Regions from separate parts of the Homo sapiens genome. Here all the other regions are linked to region 1. The links come from fine-mapping of genetic effects on gene expression. A gene starts in region 1. Each other region holds a variant in brackets. All regions are shown on one strand. Distances are between the middles of the regions. Region 1 holds the start of CEP57 (centrosomal protein 57). Region 2 overlaps FAM76B (family with sequence similarity 76 member B). Region 3 has its middle 41 kb from the start of FAM76B. Region 4 has its middle 19 kb from the start of MTMR2. Region 5 has its middle 49 kb from the start of FAM76B.

Evidence for each region. PIP is the estimated chance that this variant, and not a neighbour inherited with it, causes the effect. A credible set is the group of variants that fine-mapping cannot tell apart.
Region 2: its variant is the best candidate, but not a certain one, in a credible set for the expression of CEP57 in whole blood (TOPMed, PIP 0.72).
Region 3: its variant is the best candidate, but not a certain one, in a credible set for the expression of CEP57 in activated CD8 T cells (Schmiedel 2018, PIP 0.81).
Region 4: its variant is the best candidate, but not a certain one, in a credible set for the expression of CEP57 in lymphoblastoid cells (GTEx, PIP 0.62).
Region 5: its variant is the best candidate, but not a certain one, in a credible set for the expression of CEP57 in whole blood (INTERVAL, PIP 0.79).

The regions. Positions count from the first base shown.
Region 1 is chr11:95,788,129-95,792,251 of GRCh38, reverse strand. CEP57 (centrosomal protein 57) reads right to left here and starts at 1,754. Exons shown (of 11, transcript NM_014679.5): 1 at 1,509-1,754. The coding sequence starts at 1,553. It overlaps FAM76B (family with sequence similarity 76 member B), which reads left to right and starts at 2,470. Exons shown (of 10, transcript NM_144664.5): 1 at 2,470-2,860; 2 at 3,689-3,753. The coding sequence starts at 2,774. RefSeq lists enhancers at 846-1,509, 1,473-1,942 and a silencer at 2,443-2,862.
Region 2 is chr11:95,766,938-95,771,060 of GRCh38, reverse strand. It overlaps FAM76B (family with sequence similarity 76 member B), which reads left to right. Exons shown (of 10, transcript NM_144664.5): 10 at 1-2,108. Among named protein-coding and RNA genes, the nearest start is that of FAM76B, 21 kb to the left of the region's middle. The variant A/G (reference allele first, on the strand shown) is at 2,363.
Region 3 is chr11:95,746,836-95,750,958 of GRCh38, reverse strand. No RefSeq gene overlaps it. Among named protein-coding and RNA genes, the nearest start is that of FAM76B, 41 kb to the left of the region's middle. The variant G/ACACACACG (reference allele first, on the strand shown) is at 1,715.
Region 4 is chr11:95,941,281-95,945,403 of GRCh38, reverse strand. No RefSeq gene overlaps it. Among named protein-coding and RNA genes, the nearest start is that of MTMR2, 19 kb to the right of the region's middle. The variant A/G (reference allele first, on the strand shown) is at 1,657.
Region 5 is chr11:95,739,096-95,743,218 of GRCh38, reverse strand. No RefSeq gene overlaps it. Among named protein-coding and RNA genes, the nearest start is that of FAM76B, 49 kb to the left of the region's middle. The variant A/G (reference allele first, on the strand shown) is at 1,752.

The sequences.
Region 1 (4,123 bases):
TCCTATAAAATCTCATCCATCTGCTGACACTTCCAATAGTTTTTTACTTTTTTCTTTTACTGACCTAATCCTGAATAACCTTAAATTGCTGCTTTCCTTACTTCTCCTTAACTTCCCCAGACCTCTCTGCAAACTTCTAATTCCCATTCGGCTGAAACACTGTAATACTTCTAGTCCCATTATTACAAATTCTAACAAGTCTCCAAAAGCTGAAACTGACTTCTCCAAGGTGACCAGGCTTTCTTAGCGTTTCCAACTCTTTCCCCCTAGATCCTAGAAAATAACTTTACCCTGATACTCTTCTAGTTCCTTCCCTCACCATCCTTCTTTTTTCACGTTTTTACCTACGTTTCCAATTCACCTCATCCAGCTCTACCTCCGTATTACTTCTTCTCATTCCGAACTATCTCAAGTTTCCTAAAAGCACCTACTGTTCTAGCACATACTCCAAAATTCCCGCACTGCCTTTTTCTCCTTTCTCTACTCTTGGGACAAGCAATCACAATTCCTTCGACACGCAACTAGCTCCATCTTCCCTTCTAGGAAACCTTCTCTAGCCTACCCAAGCACTGTTAATCACTCCCCTCTAGATTATTCTACTACGGTAGCACTTCCTAAACTATACTGCGCAGTAATCACTAATTACGTGTAGTTTCTCTTCAGTGTTTTTCTCCTTCAAAGCAGGGTTTCTATTCTGTTCATTTGGACCCTAACAGTATACCAGGCATCGAACATTTGCTAACTGGAGAAATAAGAGCTCCAACATTTACTTCCTATCAAAGCTTTCCAATGCCGCGGTTTTCAAAAACCTAAGCATTCGACACTCCAATTTGAGAAATACCAGTGAATACCAGTAACTAAACTGGATGGTGACATTTGATGAGGCGAAAACAATATTTAAAATCAATTCCCCCTGTCGCCTCTCCAAAAGGGCATTTCCACATTGAAGTTCCAGTAATTCTAGGTGACAGGAAGCGCGCGTTCTGGCTACGAGCATCACACAACGAAGTTAATGTGGATGGGAGTGGGAGGCACTGCAGGGATAGGAAACAGCATAAGCAACGACTAGTAAGCGCTCGAGAGACGGCGGACTACTATTCTGCAACGTCTCTTAAACACACTGGCGCGCCTCACCTGATCTGGCGAGTTTCCTAGAGGGGCCGCTGAACCCACGTGACCAAAAGAGCTACATTTTTGCAGGCCAGGGAGTGGGCAGTTATCCCAGCCGGCCCTTGGGAATGTTAGGCAACCGGGGTTGGTTGCTACGCCAAAAGGTGAATAAGGGCTGGGGAACAGGGGCGGCCAGCCCAGTTTCACTGGGAGCCAGAGGGTGCAGCTTCGACACAGCCACAGTGAATGGAAGCTTGGGGAGCGCGGGGCAATCTAGGCATTCCCGCCGACCTCCAGAATTGCGTCAGAAGCTGGACTGACAGCGCCCTGAAACGTGAGGAAACTCAAAGAGGCGCTTAGGGCCGACGTGGGGCCCACTCGCGCCAACTGCTTCTTACCGACAAGTGAGAACCAGAAGCCGCAGAGACAGACGCCGCCGCCATCTTTCAGCCTGCCCAGGGGGTCTCCGCACTTCGGGGGCGGTCTAGGTTCTCGTGCTCTTCTCCAAGACTCGGGAGCCGCCCACCAGCGGGGACCCTAGGCTGAACCCCTGATGGAAAAGGGCAAGGGTGCTGGTGCTGGGCTTGGAAACCCCTGCAACACACCCCCTCAGGGCCGCCTACGCTCACAGCTTACACAGAAAGGGCAACACGTCCTAACGGACGTCTTTCCTAGCCAATCAAAACAGCAGACGTCTTTCTGTAGTAGGAGAGAATCCGCCTCTTCCCTGGTGACGTCACAAGGTAGCGCGTAACGGGGCCCGCTGGGGCAGACAACGCCGGGGTTACAGGCCGGCTCTGCGGGGATTCTACGGAGGGTCGGGCCTCCTCCAGTAAGAAGCGTGGGCGAGTAGTGGTGTCGCCAGTGGCAACTGAAGGGAGTAATGGAGATAAAACAAAAGCGAAGGCGAAGTTAAAGCACTCCACGAGTTCCCTCGGATTAAACGCCGGAGAGAGCGTGAATTTGCCTCGGGGACGCCTCTCCAGGTGAAGTATTTACCTTTTGGCCAATAACAAATAGGATTAGGAGGGACTTAACGATTTAGTCCAATAGAAAGCAAGGGAAAAAAAGTTGCGGCAGAGAACGAGCCTTTCGCGAACATTTGCTCAATTGGATTGGGGCGCTCTCAGCCAAACCTGGGACTGGCTGTTAGAAATAGCCGCGACCGCAGACCTTTGGGCGGGGCAGGTTCAAAGCGGATTTCGCGCGCTGAGAGCTCCGGGATGTCATTGGCCGGCGACATCCTCCCTTTGTGGGCGCTTCCTGCGTCGCGGAAGTTGGGAGTTGGGAGGAGCCATCGAATGACGCGATAGCCTTCGCAGCCAATCAGGGATGGGAAAGGGAGGCCGAGAAGGAAGCGGATCCACGGCCGCACAGCTAAACAGCAACCCCCTACCCGCTTCGTCTCCCTCCGCCGCTATCGGGGCCTAAGCGGGAGCGGCTGGCACGGCGTCACTGGGTGGGCTGGGGCGGAAGTGGAGGCGGAGGGAGACGGTGGCGTCGTCCGCGGGGCCCTGGGCTCTCGCGGCGAGGCCCTGGTGGGCGCGAGGCAGGGGGAGGGGGAGGAGGAGGAGCCCGCGGCCCGGGCGGCGGCGGCTCTCGGGTTCTCCGTAGGGCCCCGCCTCGGAGCGGGCGGCGGCGGAGGAGGAGACTGAGGAGCAGGATGGCGGCCTCGGCCCTGTACGCCTGCACCAAGTGTACCCAGCGTTATCCTTTCGAGGAGCTCTCCCAGGGCCAGCAGCTCTGCAAGGTCCGTGGGCTCCGGGAGGCGGGCGGGATGGGTGTCCTCGGCCGTAGCCGGAGGGGGCCGGGTAGCCGCTGCACTGCAGCCCCTCTTCGCCGGCGCCTCAGGGGTTTGGGAGTCTGGAGCCCTCGCCTCCCCACTCGGGGACCCCTTTTTCTGGGGGCTTGAACATTAGCTGGGAACGGACCCTGAAAGGGAGGCAGAATCGTGCCCTTTTCCAGGCGGCCCAGGAGGGTGCCGGGCCCCGTCAGCGTCTGGGGGTCTCAGGAGTGGGGTTGAGTGAGGCAGCCACCTGTCTATGCCGCAGAGACCCAGGGGTGGAGATGTTTTCATCTCGGTTTTCTGCCTGGTCTGTCCTCTTCTTCCACCAGGAGGCAGGGGACGGTTTTTGCACTTTCTTGCTAGGAACCCGAAGCCGCAAAGCTGATGGCATCCTTCTTCCCTGTCCAGGAAAGCGAAGCGACTGGTTTGGGAACAGAATGCTCTGATTTGGAGCTCCTCCCATCCCATTAAAGCCTGGATGCTGTCTGTGAGCAACGGTGCAAAATAATAAGTAGTTTCACATTTAACCAATCCTTGAAATAGGCCCTGACAGCTTTCTTAATTTGTCTGTAATATACCCCCACGTCTACTAAAGACAAAGACACCTGTGCCTTCCCTAAGGAATTATATTGTGATTGGCCACTTATATGATAAAGCATCCAGTTCTTTACGTTGGGGCCAGGTTTTATAAATGTTTTAGACTTTCACTAGGTTGGGTAAACAGTTTTCTACCAGAAAAGTGAGATTTGGGACTTTCAGAAAGATACTGACTAATGTATTGTCTTATTACAGGAATGTCGGATTGCACATCCTATTGTAAAATGTACTTACTGCAGATCAGAATTTCAACAAGAGAGGTTTGTATACTGAATAGTTTTTGACTGTTAAAGACAAGTGTTGTCTTTATGGAATACTTGGGGGTTGTAATCCCATGTTTTTATGAAAGTATTTTTAAAAAATGGTTTAGCCCCAGAAATTTTAAGTTGTAAACCTTTTATACATGGTGGGAGAGAGAATGTTGCGAAAAAAACCAGTGGTGGTTAATTTACAGTTAGACTTTATATGAGAGAAGGAATAATACTACATGGAAAATGTACAGCCTTGCTAATGAAAATGCAAATGTAAACAGTTATGTTAAACTAAAAAAAAATGGTAAAGCCTTAATGGATCTGAGGAAAGGTCTGTAGTGTTACCAACTGCCTTCCAAGGTGAAAATCTAATAATTTG
Region 2 (4,123 bases), 21 kb after region 1:
GGTGCTTTTATTAAATGAACTTCAGATATATGTAAATTTGTTTTTTAAAGTTACATCATTAACATTAGTAACCTAGCATTTTCATTATTGGTATAGGAATTAATGTTTATTGTACAGTATCTAAGGTAAAATGTGTTTCTGTTTTGTAAAAACTACTGTAGATTTTTACTTACAAGTGCCTTTTTGCCACCTAATGTTTTTATTTATAGGAATGCTGATCTTTTGTACATACATTTTGTTTTAAAATCATGTTTAATAAATGTTTGTATATAAATGCATATGTACAGAAGCCTATTTCAAAAGGAAATCAAAGTTGCTAGTAAAATGTTTGAGATTACATTTAGAACTAACTGATAATGCATATAGATTGTAGAAAATTTTGTGATTTGTTTCTGTGTGATAAGGGAAGCTGTTGGTCTTTGAATTCATTTAATTATGTCAAAATAGTTCCCCAAAGATTTAATTTTAAGTTGCTTCTTAAAGAGTAATTTTATTTTTTATGTCATGTGGCTTCATATTAGTATTGTGTGAGTTACATGTTTTGCTTTATATTTTATAAAATTTTTTAAAAATTTTAATGTTTCTGCAATGATCCATGTATCTGCTTTCCCTATGTGTGGTTATCTAAGTTAATATTTATGTACAATGTAATTTGTAAATTTAAAGCAAATCTGAAAAAAATTAAATGATCTTTTTAATCCAATCTGTGATAATCTTTGAATAAATTGGAATCTACTATAAGATTCAGGCATTATAAGTAAATTGTCCTAAAGTCTTTAAAATTGTCTATAAAAGGTTAAGGTAGGGTGGGATAGGTTATATGAAGTTATTGACTATATTCTGATCCAGCGGTTTTCAGCCTGAAATAGAATTTATCTCCTAGTTATTATCAGTTCAGAGTTTTAGTTTGATTTTAAAGTATTGCTAGATACACTGTATAGAGTGAGTTGCTTCTCTTAATAATTTATGGGCAAAGATAAATTTGCTTCATGTAAAACTGTTACTAAATTTATAAGTTTTAAAGGTTTTGTTTTATACAAGCATTGATTGTGAATGTCATATCAAAGATTGGCTTTCTTAAGAACACATGATTGAAACAATTTTTTTTTAACATGACGTGTTTCAATAGACTGTTCTCATAGTTCATTATAAAGTGAATACCAAATAATTCTTTGTCCATTTTGAAAGCATAATATAGGGTAATTTTCAAGTGATACAAAAAGATTCAGTTAGAATCTTGTAAACTAAACCAGTTTATTTTTATGGGATCTTCATGTAATAATTTTCTTAAATTTAGTACTCTCAACCATGATAGATAATGCCTTAACATGGATTTTAACGTTTGCAGGATTTGCTAAATTCATAAGATAGTTATTACCTTTCTTTGAAATTTGTAATGTTTTATATTCTTGTTTCATAGCCATTTGTCAGTCCACAGTGGTCATTATGGTTTTACTTTTTGATAGTTCTTACACCTTGTTGGAGAAACTACAAAAGAAAGTTGTCCTCGTCCTTCCCCTTAGCTAACATCAAAATTAAAAAGTTGAATATTAATATTAGCTAACATTAAAATGGAAGGTAATTCAGTTTTAGTGTTAGCTAACATTAACAGTCTAATAATTTAGCTTTGTAAATTCCAAGGCTAAAACCCTTTCATGGGCTTCACAGTATTTAGTCCTAATTAAATACCCTTCTTTATTCCATGACCTTATTTTATAACTTAAATTTTTTTGCAATTGTATAAATTAGTAATTCAGTCCCAGTCCTGGATCTCTGTAGTGTTTTGACATAATAAACTGATATTCTTTAAATGTGGACCTGTAAGGAGATACTATGGTGTGGTGTATTGTGCTTTTAGCCTGTTTTCCACTATTAATTAGCATTTACCAGTAAGGGTCATTTTGACTCAAGTTATTTATGTATTAATAGCCTGTGAATATTGCAGTCCTTTTTAGATTATATTGGTCTAAATATGCATTCTGCAGTGAACCTGTTAAGCTGTTCACATGTATAGACTATTGAAATACTGTACTTGTACACATCTGACTGTTGACATTTTGTACTTTTTTCTAGATCCAATATTTCACAATAAAAAACTTGTCAAAGGCTTTGTATTAGTTTTCAATGGCTGCTGTAACAAACTCCCACACACTTAGTGTCTTAATACAACAAAAATTAATTCTTTTATGGTTCTGGAGGCCAGAAGTCCAAAATCAGGTTTACTGGTCTAAAGTCAAGGTATTGGCAGGATTGCTTCTTTCTGGAGGCTGTAGGGGAAAATCTGTTTTCTTGCCTTTTCCAGCTTCTAGAGCTGCATTCCTTGCATGCTATGAGCTCATTGACCTTTATCTTCAAAGCCCAA[A/G]TTGTAGCATCTCAAATCTCTCTCTGCTGCTGTCATCATACCTTCTCAGAGTGTCTCCCTCTGTTCCCTCTCATAAGGACCTTATGAGAACATTATTGGCTCCACCTGCACAAACAACGTAGTTTTTCCATCTCGAGTTCTTAACCTAGTCACATCTGCAAAGTCCCTATTGTCATATAAGGTAATGTATTCACTGGTTCCAAGGGTTCGGGCATGGACATATTGGGGGACCATTATTGAGCCTACATAGCTTCATCTACATTTTACCCCCTTTTTCCAGTATGAAACCCTGAAACAACAGATACATGAGAGAAGTTTAGGCCAAACATTAGAAACTATTTTCCTGTCTGTCCATTCAGACCACTTTAGTGCAATAGTTATTTTTCCTGGAAGAAATAAATTTGCATCTAATTGAGCAAGTATTTCAAGCTATAGTTAAGTTTTTGAAAGCTTTGGAACATGACTAGTACCATGCTAGATTGTTTGATAAGTTAAAAGTTGAAGGTGTGATTCTTTCATTTGTAGACTAGGTGGGCAGATACTGTGCTTGGGAAAAAATCTGGAACCTAACTTTGGTATTATAAAGTGTAGTAAAAGCTAACAGCTTTTAGCAAGGGCATTTCAAGACTTCAGGTGTAGTCCCTTGTTTCTCAAACGTTAGTATACATCAGAGTTACCTGGAGGGCATGATAAACACATGTTGCTGGACCTTATCCCCAGTTTTCTGATTCAGTGGGTCTGGGATGGAGCCTAAGAATTTTCAGTTCTCAGTTCTCAGGTAATGCTGCTTCTGGCCCAGAGCTCACATTTTGAGAACTATCATTTTAATATTCCCTGCATTTCCCATACAAACTATACCATTGGGTAGGTAAGTAGTAGATGGGGGGTAGTTTCTCTTTAAAACATTCTAATGAAAAAGGAAGGATGGAATTGCAACATCACTATTTTGCAACCTCTCATGGAGTTAAGGATTGGTCATCAGCAGCTACTGACAATACACAAACACATTCTTAAGTGCTTTCTGATGGAGGAATACACTGCTACCTATAAAGTTTTGCCAAAAAGAATCAAACCTAAATCTGACGAAGCATCTACCAATTAACCAAAAATAGAAAGGATGGAAGATCATGTTGAGTGACACCAAAAGGATACAGTTGGCACAGTTGTTCAATAAGTTGCAAGCAGAGGGAATCAGTGGAGGGAGAACCTATAGTATAAAAGGTACTTAATATAAACCAGTCACAATATGTGACCCTGATATGGATCTGGAATCAAGAAATTAAAAATTTTTAACATGTATGAGAACTGAAAATTTGAACACTGGTTATGTAATGATTTTAAGGAATTAAGTACTGTTAACTTTTCAGATGTGATGATGGTGTTGCAGCTATCTTTTTAGAGTCCTAGAGACACCTACTAAAATATTTATAATGAAATGGTATGATGATTGGTATTTGCTTCAAAATAGTATAGGGAGGGAGATACGAGAATATAAATGAAACAGGATTGGGTGTGAGTTGTTAATTTTTGAAACTGGGTGATAGTTATATGGTGGTTTATTATACTATATTCAACTTTTGTGTAAATTTTTTCTTAATAACAAGTAACACTACCACCATCACCCCTGCCTGCCAAGTTACGCTCAATTTGAACAATACATGCTTATTGAAAAAAAAAATGCACAGCACAAAAATCAGGAGAAAAAAGAAAAAACCACTCACAGTTCTCCCAGGTGACATATTTGTTTCTGTTTTATATGTT
Region 3 (4,123 bases), 41 kb after region 1:
GGTATGTATGTATGTATGTATGTATGTATGTATGTATGTATGTATTTCAACAGTCTTGCTGTGTTGCCCAGGCTCGAGTTCAGTGGCGTGATCTCAGCTCACTGCAACCTCTGCCTCCTGGGTTCGAGCAATTCTTGTGCCTCAGCCTTCTAAGCAGCTTGCATTACAGGCATATGACACCATGCCTGGCTAATTTTTATATTTTTAGTGGAGACGGGGTTTCACTATGTTGGCCAGGCTGGTCTTGAACTCTTGGTCTCAAGTAATCTGCCTGCGTCAGCCTCCCAAAGCGCTGGGATTACAGGTGTGAGCCACCATGCCTGGCTTAGTGTCATTACTAATGTTGTATAGCAAACCACCACAAAATTTAGTGGCATAAAAATATAAATCATTTTATTATGCTGAAGGTTATTATTGATCAGGATTTCAGAGAGTGTCCTCTCTAATAAAACTTAAGGATGGTTTTTCTCTGCTTTATAACAACTAGGGTCTCTATTGGGAAGACTCAAACATCTGGAATAACTCATATGCCAGGGACTGGAATCATCTGGAAACTTTTTTAACCACAGTTGTGGTGACTGGTGATATGCCATGAAGACTAAGCTTAATTGGGACTCTCAATTGGAATGCCTGTGTATGGCCTCTTCATGTGGTCTGGGCTTCTGGTGGACTGTTCCAGCAAAAAAGATAGATGCTCCCTGATCACTCATGGCCCAGCCTTGTAAATCATTGTCTCATTTCTAGTGTACTTTATTGGGTAAAGCAGTCAAAACTAATCTAGATTCAAGTAGGGTACAGCCACCATTTCTTAATGGGAGGAACGTCAAAGAATTTGTAGGAAGGTTTTAAAATCACCATATATAGTCATGAAAACAATAGTCAAATAGTCAGGAGCTCTTCAGAGAAATCAAAGCAGAAGCTGAAAGGAAAATCAGGCCGATCTCTGTTGATAAGGGTTTTGACAACAAAAATCATTCCTGGATCCAACTGCTGATGGCTGAGGCTGCTGCTATAATCTCCAGCATGTTACATGCTGGCTTAGGAGCTGCAAAGGAAGAGTATTTAGGGCCCTAGATGGGAGAATCTGGAAAAGTTGGGATTGAGTTAACATCTGGAGCCCTAGCAACTAAAAGCTCAGTGTGAATCTTATTTGGATCCTGCCTCAAGAAAATAACCAGGGAAATTTGAACACTGATGATGTTGAGGATTTACTTAATATTTCTGTGTAATGATGGTATTGTTGTTATGTCAAAAATGTTAATTTCATTTTGTTTCAAAATGAAATATTCCTTAATAGTTATTCCTTAATATTCCTTGAGGAATATAAATATCCTTAATAAATAATAAATAGGATATTCCTTAATAAATTCCTTAATTTCATTTTGAAACAAAAGAAATTATTTATTAAGGAATTTTTATTTATTAAGGAATTATTAAGGAATATCCTTATTTATTAAGAAATATCCTAAACAATGTGTAGATAAAATAATATGATGTCTTGGATTTGCTTCAACATAGCCCAGTGAGGGAAAGAGGAGGAGATCGGATTATAGGTGAACCAGATTGGATATATGTTGATATTATGAAACCAATGAGAAGTACATGGGAGTTCTTTATACAATTTTATCTCCTTTTGTGTAAGCTTGAAAACTTTCACACTGAAATTTTTTGGAAGTTTACACACACACACACACACACACACACACACACACAC[G/ACACACACG]GATAGGTATTAACCTCTAGAATGGATTTACCATATTTAAAAGAGTAATAAGGAACTTCCAATAAATTGTATTTGCATTTATTTAAGTCAATTGTTGTCTTGGTAGATAACAACTGTGTAGCACTTTTTATTTCATGAAACCCTTTGACCTTCACAATAATTCCACAAGGTAGGCAGATGATAAGTGTAAGCATAGAGGAATAAAAGGACATGTTCAAGGTCACACAACTAGAACATGGAGGATGCAGGTCTCAAATTTGAGGCTTTTGGTTTTATAACTCATTGCCATTACACGATAAGTTACTATGCAGCAGTAGTTCTTAATATTTAGGGGCTGTGTGACACTTTGATGACCTGATCAAAGCTATGGAACATTTTCCCAGAAAAATGCAAATGTGCGCACATCCAAAAATGTGAAGACAATTTCAGGGATGGGGAGGTTCCTTTCCTCCAATACATCTGAAGCCTACTCATGGATCTCAGGTTAGGCATTACTGCTGTATAAAGAACATGCTTCTTAGTCAATTCTATTTCTCCTTTGTTGGCTATCATAACTCAGCCTTCCAACAGAGTTCTGGCTTGCTCCCTCATCCAATTAACTACATCAAATCTGCTCTCTTGCCTTATTTCTTTGTCTCTGATAATGATCTGAGCATTGAGCATGAAGACATCCTCCCTTAGCCTTAAATCAGCAGTTCCTCACAGGCCCTACAGACACCCATTTCATTTTGTAAAGTTTCATTCACTGTTCCTCATATCTCTTACAACATTACTAGTTTAAAACTATCATCTCAATACTGAGAAACTCAGGTATATTGTCCATAAGCTATTACTGAAATGGTGCCCGGTCATGGGAAGCATGGAGAATTAATCTCTCTTCTGTGCTCATATAGCTCTCTAAGCATGTCTCTATCAAATGAGCTCACACTATGTTATAATGATCCTGTTATGTTTTGCTCCTTCAAGAGGTTGTGAGCTCCTTGGTGACAGAAACCATATCAATTCATCATTAGGGAATGGCTAGCACAAGGCAGGTGAAACAAAGTAAGAGTGAAATAAACATTTCTTGCATTAATAAATAAATGAATCCAAACATTCCATTCAATGAAATACTTAAAATCGTAAAACAAAACAAAACAAAACAACCTGTACATCCTTGCCACGTACAACTGCATCAACCTCAGAGGTCAATTAGGTAGGAATTGTTTTGAATGCTTCCTTCTGTTGCTCTTCCAGATACTAGAAGGAGAGAGATATATATTAAAGGTTCTCCAGTTCTATTAACTGTCTTCCTGGAGACTTATTTTAAAGCCTCATCTGATTAAAATGTTTAGTCTCAATGACTGGCCAAGAGGAGTGATTATTGATTAGCTGTTTTCTTTTGGGTTAAACATGAAAGGCAGAACTATTGTCTCCGGAAGGCATTTGCTGAAAAGAACAGGTGTTACCTTGATAAAAAGCAATAAACCCTGAGCTAGTCTCCCCACCACTGCTGGAGCCCATCTACATAGTCCCTGAATGGGGAGTTGGAGGCTGAACAGATGGATAATTAGGCAAGAAATTCTGTAGAGAGATATTTTGAAAAAAGTAGGAGCAAAGTGTGCTACATGGGAGTCCAGAACCAAGGATGGAGGTGAGGAAAAGTGGTTAGGCAGGAGATTGCTGCTAAATGAAAAGGGTGGAGAAACTTTATTATGAAAACCTTGCCAAAACAACCGTCTTTGACCATTTGTTCTTTGCTCTTCCTCAAAGTCTGTTTAATGATAAAAAGAGATTATTATGGTCTTTGAAGGAGAAGGTTGTCTTTTGTAGATTAATGTGACTTTTACTTAAATCAGAAACCATTTTGCCTAGAGTATAATAGCAATCAAACCAGTGTTTGACTTCCATAAAGTAACTGAAATTGGACTTGGCCTCCTACCAGAAACACTAGAAAATTGTACAAAAATGTATTAAACAACTGTCTTCAGACTTTGGATGAAAGGTAGTACAGGGCTGTGATCCTTGAGAGAAGGTAAATCAGTAATGTGGGCCCTAAAATGATCTCAGCTTTCTGTACTTTAGGGACAGCACATAGCAGGAGAACCCAAACAGAACTCAGTGGTCTTGTTGTGTTGAAGACATAGAAACTACAGGTTGAAGAGGCTGAGGTAGCTGTAGTTTGTAGAGTAGGAAACTGGAGAGTAGGGAGCCATGCAGAGAAAGGGCACCAGAAATTTGCATATAGGTCCACTTGAGTCTGTTGCTGAAAACTAAGCTATGCATGCTAAGGATGAAAACTTTATGCCAAGCAAGGAACCACTAGGGTGCTGCAAAATAAGCAATTTCCAGAGAACATACTTGACTGAAAGTTCCTTGAGTTCCAACCGGCCAAAGTGATGAGGCCTCATTAAACATTAAATACAGACC
Region 4 (4,123 bases), 150 kb before region 1:
CATTCCAAAAGGGAGAAATTGGCCAAAACAGAATGGCTACAGGCCCCATGCAGGTCCAAAATCCAACATGGCAGTCATTAAATCTTAAAGCTCCTAAATAATTTCCTTTGAAACCACATGTCACATCCAGGTCATGCTGATGCAAGGAGTGGGCTCTCATGGTCTTGAGCAGCTCTGCCCCTGTGGCTTTGCAGGATGCAAGCCCCCTCCCAGCTGCTTTCATGGACTGGTGTTGAGTGTCTGTTGCTTTTCCAGGTTAATGGTGCAAGCTGTCAGTGGATCTACCATTCTGGGGTCTGGAGGACAGTGGCCCTCTTTTCATAGCTCCAGTAGGCAATACCCCAGTGGGGACTGTGTGTGGGGGCTGTGAGCCCACATTTCCCTTCCACACTACCCTAGCAGAGGTTCTCCATGAAGGCTCCATCTCTGCAGCAAACTTCTGCATGGACATCCAGACATTACCATACATCTGAAATCTAGGCAGAGGTTCCTAAACCTCGATTATTGACTTCTGTGCATCCACAGGCCCAACATCACATGGAAGCCACCAAGGCTTGGAGCTTGCACCCTCTGAAGCAATGGCCTGAGCTGTACATTGACCCCTTTTATTCACAGCTAGGACGCTGGGCACCAAGTCATGAGACTGCACAAAGAAGCAAGGCCCTGGGCCTAGCCTACGAAATCATTTTTTCCTCCTAGGCCTCTGGGCCTGTGATAAAAGGGGTCCCTTGAAGACATCTGACATGTCCTGGAGACATTTTCACTATTGTCTTGGCGATTAACATTTGGATCCTCATTACTTATGCAAATTTCTGTTGCCAGCTTGAACTTCTCCTCAGAAAATGGCTTTTTCTTTTCTATCACATCGTCAGGCTGCAAATATTTTAAACTTTTATGCTCTGCTTCCCTTTTAAACGTAAGTTCCAATTCCAAACAATCTCTTTGTGAATGCATAAAACTGAATGCTTTTAAGAGCACCGAAGTCACCTCTTGAATGCTTTCTTGCTTAGAAATTTCTTCTGTGAGATATCCTAAATCATCTCTCTGAAGTTAAAGTTTCCCAGACCTCTATGGCAGGGGCAAAATTCTGCCAGTCACTTTGCTAAAGCATAGCAAAAGCCACCTTTATTCCTGTTCCCAGCAAGTTCCTTATCTCCATCTGAGACCACCTCAGCCTGGACTTTATTGTCCATATCACTATCAGCATTCAAAAAGCCATTGATTTGTTGAACAATTTGTTGAACAAAGCCATTCAACAAGTCTCTAGGAAGTTTTGAGCTTTCCCACATCTTCCTGTCTTCTGAGCCCTCCAAATTGTTCCAACCTCTGCCTGTTACCCCATTCCAAAGTCACTTCCACATTTTTGGGTATCGTTATAGCAGCACACCACTTCCTGTGGTATCAGTTTACTGTATTAGTCCATTCACTCACTGCTATAAAGAAATACCTGAGACTGGGTAATTTATAAAGAAAAGAGGTTTAATTAACTCACAGTTCTGCATGGGTGGGGAGGCCTCAGAAAACTTACAACCATGGCAGAAAGTGAAGCAGAAGCAGGGACTTTCTTCACAGGGCAGCAGGAAGAAGTGAGTGCAAGCAGGGGTAATGTCAGACACTTATAAAACCATCAGATCTCATGAGGACACACTCACTATC[A/G]TGAGAACATCATGGGGGAAACTGTCACCATGATGCAATCACTTCCCACTGGGTCCCTCCCCTGAAATGTGGGGATTATGGGGATTACAATTCAAGATGAGATTTCAGTGGGGCCACAGCCAGAACATATCAAACTGCTATCCAATGATAAAAGACAATGAAACGTTACAGACACACAATACAGGCAGGAATTCTGTATGTTCATATCTTTCAGCAACCAACATTTAGATTATCTAAAAAGGCAAAGAACAGCAACTAGCTGAGGTAATAAAGGAGGATAAAGAGGACAGGATAGGAGTTTGGGAAGAAAGAATTATAAGTAGTAATCAATGTCTTGGTGATAAACTGCAGAAATAAGGCCTATAAAAGCTGCCCATATTTTCTTCTTTGTACTATTATGTCTATGTTTTTCTCATTCATTCATCTCTCTTCTCTCTATTGTTTTATATAGTATGACTGATTGATTTTATTATTCAATCATATTAATATTATTTTTCAATGCCATAATATCCTTGGGTTGGTTACAGGATATTATGTCAGGGTTGTGATTTAACTAGAAAAGGAGTAAACATCATTCAGAGATAGTTACAGATACTGATGAGATTTTGGGTTTCTCCTTTTATAGAAGCATGTTTTTATCTCTATGATGAATAGTTTCATTGTGACTGGAAGCATATGTTGTGCAATTATTATTTAGAAGTTTAAGTAGTAGTAGAATGGTGTTTCTGAAAGTGAAATAGCCAGGCTGGGCGCAGTGGCTCATGCCTGTAATCCCAGCACTTTGGGAGGCTGAGGCGGGTGGTTCATGAGGTCAAGAAATCGAGACCATCCTGGCCAACATGGTGAAACCCTGTCTCTACTAAAAATACAAAAAATTAGCTGGGCGTGGTGGTGCACGCCTGGAGTCCCAGCTACTTGGGAGGCTGATGCAGGAGGATCGCTTGAACCTGGCAGGCGGAGGTTGCAGTGAGCAAAGATTGCACCACTGCACTCCAGCCTGGCAACAGAGCAAGGCTCCGTCTCAAAAAAAAAAAAAAAAAAAAAAAAAAAAAAAAAAAAGAAAAGAAAAGAAAAGAAAGAAAGAAAAGAAAAGAAAGTGCAATAGCCAAAGGGATGAATTGTAGTGAGTATAGTGGATGGCACTCAGCATTTTACACACTCTTTCTAGTGGGCTTCCTAAAACTGCAGAGGTGGGAAAGCTACAAAATACATTTTTCAGACTTTCTTAAATACTAAAGTCATGAATATAACATCAGTTCTGTTAATTAGATGCATTCACAAAATACTTGGAAAATGGTAGTGAGACAGAGACAATCTATTTACTGTTTTGGCTGATTGCCAGCCTTGAAGTTCTGTGTTTCTTGATCGTTGGATTATAGCTTGTTTATAGTAATTGCATCAGTTCTAATGGCAACATTCTCAAATCTCCACTTTCCTCATTTTAGCACAGGCTGCTAAAGCCTGTTCCTTTGCAAAGCCTGTTTAGCTATGTCATTCTGAGAATCATTTCTGAAGGTGCTACCTGGAATCCACTACTTCATCCCTTTCATGATTTTATAGGCATCTAATTCCATCTGAAATGCTTTTCTGTTTAAAATAGCTAGCAGAGTACAGAGGGCAGAAAGGAGAACACCAGACTTTTCATGCATTAAACTACTCTAATAGAAACCTTTGGCTGTTGTATATATATATACATATATATATACACACACACACACACACACACACACACACACACACACACACACACACATATACACATGCACACAACTGACAATAAATATAGACCAGATGCCTAAGTTTTGAGGAAATTATATTGGCAAAGAAGCACCAAGTCAGTTCTATTATACAAAAATCTATGATTATTTGAGTGCTAAAGCAACCTGAAGGCCTATAAACTTGCATCTAGAAGATAGCTGCAAAAGATGTGATGAACTCCCTGCCTCCACACAAAATAAATTCTCTCCAATGCCTATCTCAAATGTATCATGGAGCAAAATAGGCAAGGAAAAACGTACTCCAAACAGGCCAGGGAGAATAATGAACAAAGGTGTTCCTCCCAGAGAAAAGAAATATGGAATGCCAAATGAGCTAAACAAAACATTTATTGTTAAAACAGGGAGTTTTTATTATTCCTATCCAGCAGGAGCTTATAATTTCCAGAAATCACCAACTGTTTCCCAGTCTTTCCTTTTTTGAATATGATTTCTTATTGTACTAATCCTGTTCCTGATCCACCATCATATAATAAAGGTATGTGTGAGTGGGGAGGTGAATCTAATTTTTTTATAGTTGTATAGAATACCAGAGCACAAGAAGCCATATCTGGAAATGATGCCGAGAACTGCATTGCTCCCACAAATACTGGGCCTTGAGCTGTAAAGAATTACTAAGGAGATTTATAGTTTTGCCCTTGAGAAGGAAGAACCATGTTCTGTGTATTATTAAGAGGGGGCACACAGATTTT
Region 5 (4,123 bases), 49 kb after region 1:
ATGAACACCACACACACCTTACTTCATACTCTTTTTACATAGTAATTTGACATGGCTTATAGGCCTAAACATAATGCTAAACTTATGACATTTTTTGAAGAAAAATATCAGAAAATATTTGTGACTTTGCGTTGGCATGGATGTTTTAGGCACAGAGAAAGCATGGAATATGAAGAAAAAATGGAAAAATAGAACGTTATCATAATTAAAATATTCTGCTCATAAGACCATTAAGAGAATGGAAAGGCAAATACAAACTGGGAGAAAATATTTTCAAAGTATATCTGACAAAGGATTTGTATATAAACATAAAAGAACCTTAGGATTCAATGAGAAGATAAAAAAATCCCAAGTAGAAAATGGGCAAAAGATTTCAACAGATTCACCATGAAAGAAGATATGCAAATGGCCAATAAGCACATGAAAAGATGCTGAACATCACTAATCATCAGGGAGTGCAAATTAAAACACAATGAGGGCCTGGCGCGGTGGCTCACGCCTGTAATCCCAGCACTTTGGGAGGCCGAGGCGGGCGGATCACGAGGTCAGGAGATCGAGAACATACTGGCTAACACGGTGAAACCCCGTCTCTACTAAAAATACAAAAAAATTAGCTGGGCATGGTAGCGGGCGCCTGTAGTCCCAGCTACTCGGGAGGCTGAGGTGGGAGAACGGCGTGAATTCAGGAGGCGGAGCTTGCAGTGAGCCAAGATCGCGCCACTGCACTCCAGCCTGGGCGACAGAGCAAGACTCCGTCTCAAAAAAAAAAAAAAAAAAAAAACCACAATGAGATACAATCACGGATTCACTAGAATTACTAAAATTAAAGAGATTGACAATACGAAGTATTTACAAAATGTGGAGCTACTGTAACTCATAAATTAGTTATGAGAATATAAAATGATAGAACACTTTGGAAAACAGTCTGGCATATTCTTATAAAGTTAAAATACAATTATCATAGGACCAGCAATGCTGTTTAGGAATCTACACAGGAGAAAGAGAGCATATGTCCACATAAAAAATTTTACATGAATGTTCATAGCAGCTTTATTCATAACAGCCAAAAAAAAAAAAAAAAAAGCAAACAACTCAAATGTCTATGACTAGGTTGATAAATAAACAAATTATAGTATATTCACACACTGGATTACTACTTAGCAATAAAAAAGAGCAAAGTACTTAAACATGTAACACATAAATGACTCAAAAATAAACTGAATGAAAGAAAATACACAAAAGCAAACGTACGAAATTTTAGCAAAGACAAAAACTCAACTAAAGTGACAGATAAGTGGTTGCTTGGGGACTAGGGTGGCGATAATTTGCTACCAAGGGGACAAGGGAACTTTTTGGGATGATGGAAATGTATTGATGACTGTGGTAGTTATAGAGGTTATACATTTGTCAAATCTCATTCACATATAAATATAAGAAATAGGTGCACTTTATTGTGTATAATTCATACCTTAAGTTGATTTGAAAGACCACGACAATGCATGACTCCCTGACAGGACCGCTGGTCAGCTAGCAGCAACCATTTTACTAGTCATATAAGTTTATGTTACACTGATTCACTATTTAGGTTAGGAGGAGAATATAGCTCCTTTGGTACAGCGATGGGGGCTTTGCCTGGCTAGAATTTATCATGCCCTTTGAGCAGTGGGTGATGTGATGAGATATCCCCAGGATGAAGAAAAGGGAAGGCAAAAGTGCAAAAGTCTGTCATATGGTAACTAATATTCTTGACC[A/G]GACAACACTTCTATAGGTCCCAGAGAAATCTGAGTAGAGGGAAAGGCCAGACAAATATATGCTATCCCTTGTCAGGATTTTAGCTCCTCATGCTGCATTTACATTGTGAGAAGTGAGTTTTAAGAGATACCAAAAGGGAACAAAGCATTAAGAAAGAACAATTTAGGCTGGGTGCAGTGGCTCATGCCTGTAATCCCAGTACTTTGGGAGGCCGAGGCAGGCAGGTCACCTGAGGTCGCGAGTTCGAGACCAGCCTGAGCAACATGGTGAAACCCCATCTCTACTAAAAACACAAAAGTTAGCCGGGTGTGGTGGTGCATGCCTGTAGTCCCAGCTACTTGGGAGGCTGAGGCAGGAGAATCGCTTGAACCTGGGAGGCAGAGGTTGCAGTGAGCCGAGATCATGCCATTGCACTCCAGCGTGGGCAACAAAGGCGAAGCTCTGTCTCAAAAAAAAAAAAAAAAAAAAAAGAAAGAAAGAAAGAAAGAACAATTTTCATGGGAGCAAGGGTGCATAAACTCCTTAGTGTTCTACTCCCAACCTTTCAACAGTAATAGCCCAGGCTTATATTGTGTTCATTGTGTACTACACATTTCTTTCATATATATATATATATATATATATATATATATATAGTATATGTCATATATAAAGACACATGCTGCATACAGATATTTGTGTGTGTGCACACACATATATATTTTATATATATAGTTATGCATCATTTAATGATGAAAATGTCCTTTGAGAAATGGATTATTAGGCACATTTATCATTATGTGAATATCATAGAGTGTACTTACACAAACCTAGATAGTAATAGCCTACTGCACATCTAGGCTATATGGTGGTCCAGCCTATTGTTGCTGCTTGGCTACAAACCTGTACAGCATGCTGCTAAACTGAATGCTGTAGGCAATTGTAACATAATGGTAAGTATTTGTGTATCTAGACATACCTAAACATAGAAAAAATACAGTAAAAATACAGCGCAAGAGATAAAATAATGGTATATCTGTATAGGGCAGCTCCATTATAATCTTGTGGGACCATAATTGCATATGCAGTCTGTTGTTGGCAGAAGCATTGTTATGTGATGCATAGCTGCATATAATTTATTCCTATCTCATGACAACCTTGATTATCACTCCTATCTGACAGTTTGGTCATTGAGACACAGAAAGAATAACTAGCTTGCCCAAAGTCACACAGCTACTAAGAGACAGACCTAAGATTTAAACCTGTAGATTATGGTGCTTTCCACAATTCTGCCAGTTGTGCTCTTAAGGTATCAGCACTTCAGAACGATTCCCCTCACAGGTAGAATCAAGCAAAGAGAGACTTCACCTCCCAGTTCAGATTGAGAAATATAAAAAAGAACCCCATCCTTTATGTATGTACATATGTATGGTGAGTGTATTTGCTGAAGGTAACTGCCTACTATCACTTATTTGATTTTTCATTTAACAAATATTTGTTAAATGTGTGACTTCCAGGTATCTGATATTATGCCAATCATTGGGGATTCAGAAATAAATACATTGTAATCCCCAGTTTCAAAGGACTGGAAATTCCTCCAGGATGACTGTGAAAGGCACATAGTGCAGAGGAGAGTTAGAACACTGACCACACTAGCTATAGGCTGGATATTTAGGCCATACAATATCCATCTACATTCTCAGGAGACTGTCTGCACTTGACTCACTGAAGGTCACACCTGGGCATCCCTGGGGATCCTCTTATCTTTACCATTAAGCAATGTGAAGCCATAAAATGATTAGGGTTGGCAGGCTTTTAGAGGATTAATGTTCTAACAAATTGGGTGATTTTGCTCAGCTTAGCTATTGAGGATAACATATTGTGAATTTACTGAGCTCATCTGTGACCAGATTCCTCTGCAGGGTAATTGAAAGTGAGTGGAAATGGCTATTTATGTATTCTCAGCCATTAGATGTTGCTTTCATCTCTGATTTCTTTGGATGATGAGTCAAAATATATACTGAGATCATTGCCTGTGGGTTCCACTTTGCATGTTCAATTAACTAAGGCCTGTGCTTAGTACTGGACATTAAAAGACAGATGGTGAAGGGAAGCTGGACTCAGACTTCAGAAGTGACCCACCAGCCAAATGGGGGTATATTTCTGAATTGCATCTTCCTTTAGGGCTTGATGGCCACTAGGGGTGTGAGTTGCCCTCAGCTAAATTCACAGACCTGTGGTAGTGTGGCCCAAAGTGTTCGTCTTGATGTTAAGAATAATTTTAAAACCCCTTAAAAAAGAGCTTTTGGTGAAATTCATCTGAGAGGTTCTGCACTGAACAAGGTTGAATGCATTTCTGTAGTGCAGGATTTTTCAGCATCCTGGGCAGCCT